Linked DNA regions of Homo sapiens: region 1 is linked to region 2. Evidence: fine-mapped expression QTL. A gene starts in region 2. The other region holds a variant in brackets. All regions are shown on one strand. Distances are from middle to middle.

Evidence for each region.
Region 1: its variant is fine-mapped to the expression of PDCD6 in cerebellum (GTEx, PIP above 0.99). The same link has a PIP of 0.9 or more in aorta, esophagus muscle, fibroblasts and thyroid.

Annotation. Positions count from the first base shown.
Region 1 is chr5:309,929-312,943 of GRCh38, reverse strand. PDCD6 (programmed cell death 6) reads right to left here. Exons shown (of 6, transcript NM_013232.4): 5 at 1,542-1,651. The region is part of intron 3 of PDCD6-AHRR (PDCD6-AHRR readthrough (NMD candidate)); the gene reads right to left. Among named protein-coding and RNA genes, the nearest start is that of AHRR, 10 kb to the left of the region's middle. The variant A/G (reference allele first, on the strand shown) is at 1,581.
Region 2 is chr5:270,213-272,963 of GRCh38, reverse strand. It overlaps PDCD6 (programmed cell death 6), which reads right to left and starts at 1,318. Exons shown (of 6, transcript NM_013232.4): 1 at 1,143-1,318; 2 at 192-253. The coding sequence starts at 1,243. It overlaps PDCD6-DT (PDCD6 divergent transcript), which reads left to right and starts at 1,440. Exons shown (of 2, transcript NR_104613.1): 1 at 1,440-1,619. PDCD6-AHRR (PDCD6-AHRR readthrough (NMD candidate)) reads right to left here and starts at 1,318. Exons shown (of 13, transcript NR_165163.2): 1 at 1,143-1,318; 2 at 192-253. RefSeq lists a silencer at 1,026-1,235 and enhancers at 1,526-1,615, 2,277-2,751.

The DNA.
Region 1 (3,015 bases), 40 kb before region 2:
ACCTCAAATGAAGATCTGAGCCCTACGGCAATTCAGACACAGAACCTCAAATGAAGATCTGAGCCCTACGGCAATTCAGACACAGAACGAGATTTTACACGGCATCTTTTCCCTTTTTCTTTTCTTTCTTTTTTAAGACAGGGTCTGGCTCTGTCACCCAGGCTGGAGTGCAGTGGTGTGATCTCGGCTCACTGAAACCTCCACCTCCCGGGTTCAAGTGATTCTCCTGCCTCAGCCTCCTGAGTAGCTGGGACTACAGGCATGCGACACCAGGCCCAGCCTACACTTTTTTGAAAGTGTTCAGAGAACATTGTAAAAATGTCATCCAACCTGGCAGGAACCCCGAGAGGCAGGGGCAGGAAAGGGTCCCCAACCGTAGAGTTTTGAAGCTTCCATGTTCACAGACCTGGTTCTCCAACAAATCCCTGAAGAACAGGGACTGATGCATCCATGCCAAATCAGAGGAAACTCACTTTTACAGATCTAGCATCTTAATTATTATACAGAATAAACAATTTGGGAACGTTTTCCAAATTTCCACATTATTTCTAAAAACCCCATGCTGTTCCTATCTCTCACTGAATTCCAAGGCCAACAAGACAGGACCTTGAGGAACCTGGGTAGAGACCTGGATCACCACCTGCAAACAGCAGCAGAGGTCTGTGTGGAGCTCCCAGGCGGGTCCCCTGAGCCCTGCTCTCCATCTCCCGTGGGTCTCAAAGAGAGCCCAGCAGGAGAGACACCACCAAGGAGCTTGCCTTGCAGGTCAGGGTGCATTACCAGCTCCTGCAGACACTGGAGTGCACGGGAAGAGCTCGGAGACCCCACTGAGGGCGGCCTGAGCGACCACAGGCTCCACAGCTGACCTCACACACAGACGGCAGGACACAGTGATGACCACAACAGAAAACGTGCCCATTTTCTCAGAATAAAAGTTTTTGTAAAAATACACCATAGTTGGCCAGGCATGGTGGCTCATGTCTGTAATCCTAGCACTTTGGGAGGCTAAGGTGGGCGGATTACTTGAGGTCAGGAGTTTGAGATCAGCCTGGCCAACATGGCAAAATCCCGTCTCTACTAAAAATACAAAAATTAGCTGGGTGTCACCTGTAATCCCAGCTACTGGGGAGGCTGAGGCAGGAGAATTGCTTAAACCCGGGACGCAGAGGTGGGAGTGAGCCGGGATCGTGCCACTGCACTCCCGTCTGGGTGACAGAGCGAGACTCGGTCTCAAAACAAAACAAAACAAAACAAAAAACAAAAAAAACCACAACACCAGAACATACATGTAAATAACCCACCGGATACTGAAAAACCACGTCTTGCAGATGGGCTGCTCTGTGCCATTTCCAAGGGGAGGAAAACATGTTTGTCCACACTTCACTAACCGGCTACTTCTCCAAAGATGAGACTCACTTTTATAAGCTCCAAAAACTAATTCTACACATGCCCAGCTCCTTAGATTGAAGGTCAGGTGCATCACGCTGGCAAGCAAGCCCCTCCCACCACCACCACAAACCCACGTGAAGCCATTCCGTCACCTGCAGGACGATGCAGCCCTGGATGAAGTCGTCGAAGGC[A/G]ATCTGCCCCCGTCCCTGCCTGTCAAACTTTCGAATGAGGATGTCGTGGAACTGGTCAGAGAGCCGGTAGCCTTCAAGAGGGAAAGTCAGAGTCAGAGAAGGCTGGGAGAGACGGGAGGTATGTGCCAACACTCACCCCTCCTGCCCAAGGCCCACAGCCTCTAACACACACAATGCAAGGCTGTGTGGGAACGGAAGTGCAAATTCCCTCAAAGGCACTCAGAACTGAGACACTTCCCGAATATATCATTCTGTAATGAGCTGACATCCCCAGTGCATGGAGTGACCCCTTGAGACCATGACCCCGGAAGGAGGAGTGAGTGGGACGCTGCCATTAGTCACTCCTGTGAATTAACTACTCACCTCCGGGAAGCACTCACCAAACACCACCCCACAGGGCGGCCACACTCAGTTTCCTGAACCCAGTGGAGTTACTTTCAAAGTCCTTATTGATTTTATTATGTTTATTAGCCTAGATAAGAAAATTCTGAATGATTCGCTGCCCTGGGTTGCCCATCACCAGATAATGCTTTGAAAACTAAAATTTCACAGAAGGCTTCCAGTTATACAAAGTGACAATGTCAGGAAATGGGAGTGGCTGGGGGATGTGCCCCCACCTGCCAGGAGGGACTGAAGGGCACGCAGTGGCAGGGTGACCTCGGAAAGGTCCAAGTCACTGCAGGGCCACCAAGGGCTGGGATTCCGTTTCCAGTTCACCAAGGCTGTCCTGAAAAAGGCCTCCCACAGGGAGAGGGCTCTGAAGACATGTGGATGCAGCAGGTGTGTTCGGGCACCCCGGAGGGCATGCCCCGCCTGCCGCCTTCCCTTCCCTCCCTCGAAATCCCACTGCCTTCGTGACTGTGGCATATCCTTACTGACTCAGGAGGCAAGATCCAGGTGCTGATATATTTCTACTGGTTTTCAGTCCTGCTGGAATCTCTGCAGGGACGTGTGCACCTACTCTCTGAATCTCACAGTTAATGACCTGCACAAACAGCCATTTTACGGATCAAGAGTCAAGCACACAAACATGAACACAGTGCCTTCCAGAGTGGTCAGGGCATTCTGTCATTTAAGTTCAGGGGTCCCTAAATGTGCAACAGCGGAGTTGCCTCGGACCCTCCTTCCTTGCAAGCTGAAAAGACAGGACCTCCCATTACATTCAGAAAGAGATGGCAGAGTTGTCAACAGCTGCCACTTTTTCTGGTCCCTACTACTCCCACCTCCTCACTCCCTGCACCAGGGCTGAGCCCAGCCTGCTGAGAACAGAGCCTGGGACAGGCCCACAGGGACATTGCCTGTCTGGGAGTGCATGGGGGACAGAGGCCATCACTGGTGTGCACGGGGACGGCGGCCATCACTGGGGTGCACGGGCACGGCGGCCATCACTGGTGTGCACGGGGACGGCGGCCATCACTGGGGTGCACGGGGACGG
Region 2 (2,751 bases):
GAGGCACTCCAAGCAGTAACAGCGGTAGCCACAAAATAAACCAGAAGCATCTCCACTACGAAGCAGTAATAACAATTTGTCCTAATGATTCCTTTGTCCTTGGAAAAACAACTTCAGAAAGTTATCCACTGTGAACAGGGCAGGCTCGCGGCTTCTTGGTCCGGAGACCCAGTTCCCACTGGCCCACTCACCGTTGGAGAGAGCTTGCTGAAGCTCGGTGTCTGATATCACTCCACTCCTGTCTTTATCGACCCTATAACATCAAGAAGACCAAATAAGCTGGCGATCGAAAGTTCAGGAAAAGCAAAACAAACGTCTTCTGTCAACCCTGCACCGACTCTGGAAGGCTCCCTCCTGGAACCTCCGCCTCTCCCGTCCCGCTGAGGAGTACAGCGGAATCAAGGAAGTGCCCCAGGAGCCGACGTCCAGTGTGGTCTTCCCCTAAGAGGACAATCATCTTCACCTCAATCCTTCCCTTCCTTCCTCTCCTGGCCTGTCTGAATTCCCATTTGCACCCGTTTCCCTTTTTCACAGACAAGACAAGATTCCCTCAGATAACTAAGCCATTCCCTGGCCATCAGTCACTACAGTTTCGGACATTCGGTGGAAAAGCGACCAGGGACAGAAGGCGCCGCCATAAAGGTCACCTGGCCCGAGCAGACGCCAGGTCGCTGCTTCTTCCTTGGCTGCTGACATTTTAACAGCGCCCAGGCAGTCTGTTTCCGCTTTCCCCAAACAAGCACCCTGGAGACCCTCCACCTGGCGGCTCTTGAGGCGAGAAAAAGGGCCTAGCCCAGGAGCCGGTGGCCGCGACCTCGGGTCTGCAGTGGCGCACTCTGCATCTTGGGAAGGGCCCGACGCACAGGACAGGGACCGGGCAGGAGGCAGGGGCGGCCCCAGGAGACCGGGCAGCGGACGGGGGAGACCGCGGGGGACCCGCCAGGGGACGGGGGCGGCCGCGTCGGCTGGGGCAGGGGTCGGGGGCGGCGGCAGGGGACGGGAGGGGGCCGCGGGGGACCCGACAGGGGACGGAGGAGGCCGCAGTAGAACCGGCAGGGAACGGGGTTGGTCGGGGGAGTCGGGACAGGGGTCGGGGCCGCCGCGGCGGAGGCGGGAGGTGCCCGGGCGGTGCCAGGCCGCACCTCTGGAAAACGTTCCACAGGAAGCTCTGGTCCGGCAGCGCCGCGCCTGCAGCAGGCCCAGGGCCGGCCCCAGGGCCGGGGCGGTAAGAGTAGGCGGCCATGGGCCAAGGCACGCGGCTGGGCTGAGGCGCCTGCAGCGACGAGAGACCTCTCAGGCCGACTCCGCTTCCGCCTCTGCCGGGGGCAGGGCCTGGCATTATCACCACTTCCGGGGGCGCAGGAAATGCGTGGTCTCCGGGATGGTCACGGGGTCCCGCGCAGCCAATCCCCTCGCAGCTAAGTTGCCAGGCAACGCCCTGGCGCCTGCGGGGAGGGCGGGGTCTGGGCGCCTGGAGGAAGCCAGAGCTTTGGCGCAGGCCGCCTGCGCGCTGTGCCAGGAAAGCGCTTGGAGAAAATGTCCGGCCCCGCGACCTGGGACAGGAAGTGATGGAGCACGGACTTAGTTTGCCTTTCAGTTCTTGTATAAATAGTTTTGAGGTGAATGTGATTTGCTAACAGTCGGAAACTCTGGGCGGGGCGCGGTAGCTCACACCTGTGATCCCTGCCCTTTGGGAGGCGGAGGCGGGCGGAGCTCTTGAGCCCAGCAGTTCGGACCAGCCTGGGCAGCATGGATAGACCCCATCCCTACAAAAATTACAAAAAGTAGTCGGGCGTGGTGGGCTCCTGTGGTCCCATCTACTCCGTGGGCTGAGGCGGGAGGATTGCCTGAGCCCGGGAGGTCAAGGCCGCAGGGAGCCGAGCTCACTGCACTACAGGGGTGGACAGCGAGACTCTGCCAAAAAAAAAAAAAAAAAAAAGAAAGCAAAAGCAGGCCGGGCGCGGTGGCTCACGCCTGTAATCCCAGCACTTTGGGAGGCCAAGGCCAGTGGATTACCTGAAGTCGGGAGTTCGAGACCAGCCTTGGCCAATTGGGAGACACCCCGTATCTACTAAAAATACAAAACTAACCGGGCGTGATGGTGCACACCTGTAATCCCAGCTACTCGGGAGGCTGAGGCAGGAGAATTGCTTGAAACCGGGAGGAGGAGGTTGCAGTGATCCGAGATCGGGCCATTGCACTCCAGGCCTGGGCAACAAGTGCAAAACTCTGTCTCAAAAAAAAAAAAAAAAAAAAGTCAAAACACAATTCGGGTGGGAAAGGCAGTGTGCAGCATTCTCGGTTGTCTGTTCCGCCCCCAAAAGCTTCCCTCCTTTAGGTTTAACCTGCGCCCCCGTGCTCTGCATCAGCGCGGCCCCTGACCCCGTGCAGCTGGAAACACTGCTGGGCCCCTTCACACCCCTGCCTGCTGGGCCCCTTCACACCCCGGTGGTGGTGCAGCCCTGCCTCCCGCAAGACAGCACTGCCTTCGTGCTGGACACAGTTCTAAGGTGGAGCCTGGAGTGCCTGTAGCACAAATCCCGGAATTGGGAAGTGCCCAGCTTTGGGCCACTGTGATCCCTGGGTCTTTCCCACGCGCGTAGTCTCGTGCCGCCTTCCACCCCGGTCCTGTGTCCTGTGCCCCGGTTCAGAATACTACAATTATTCTCATTATTTCATGGGGTTATTTCAGCTTTTCAGTTTCTTCAGTGCCTCATTCCATGAATGCTAACTTTTTTCATCCTCATACTT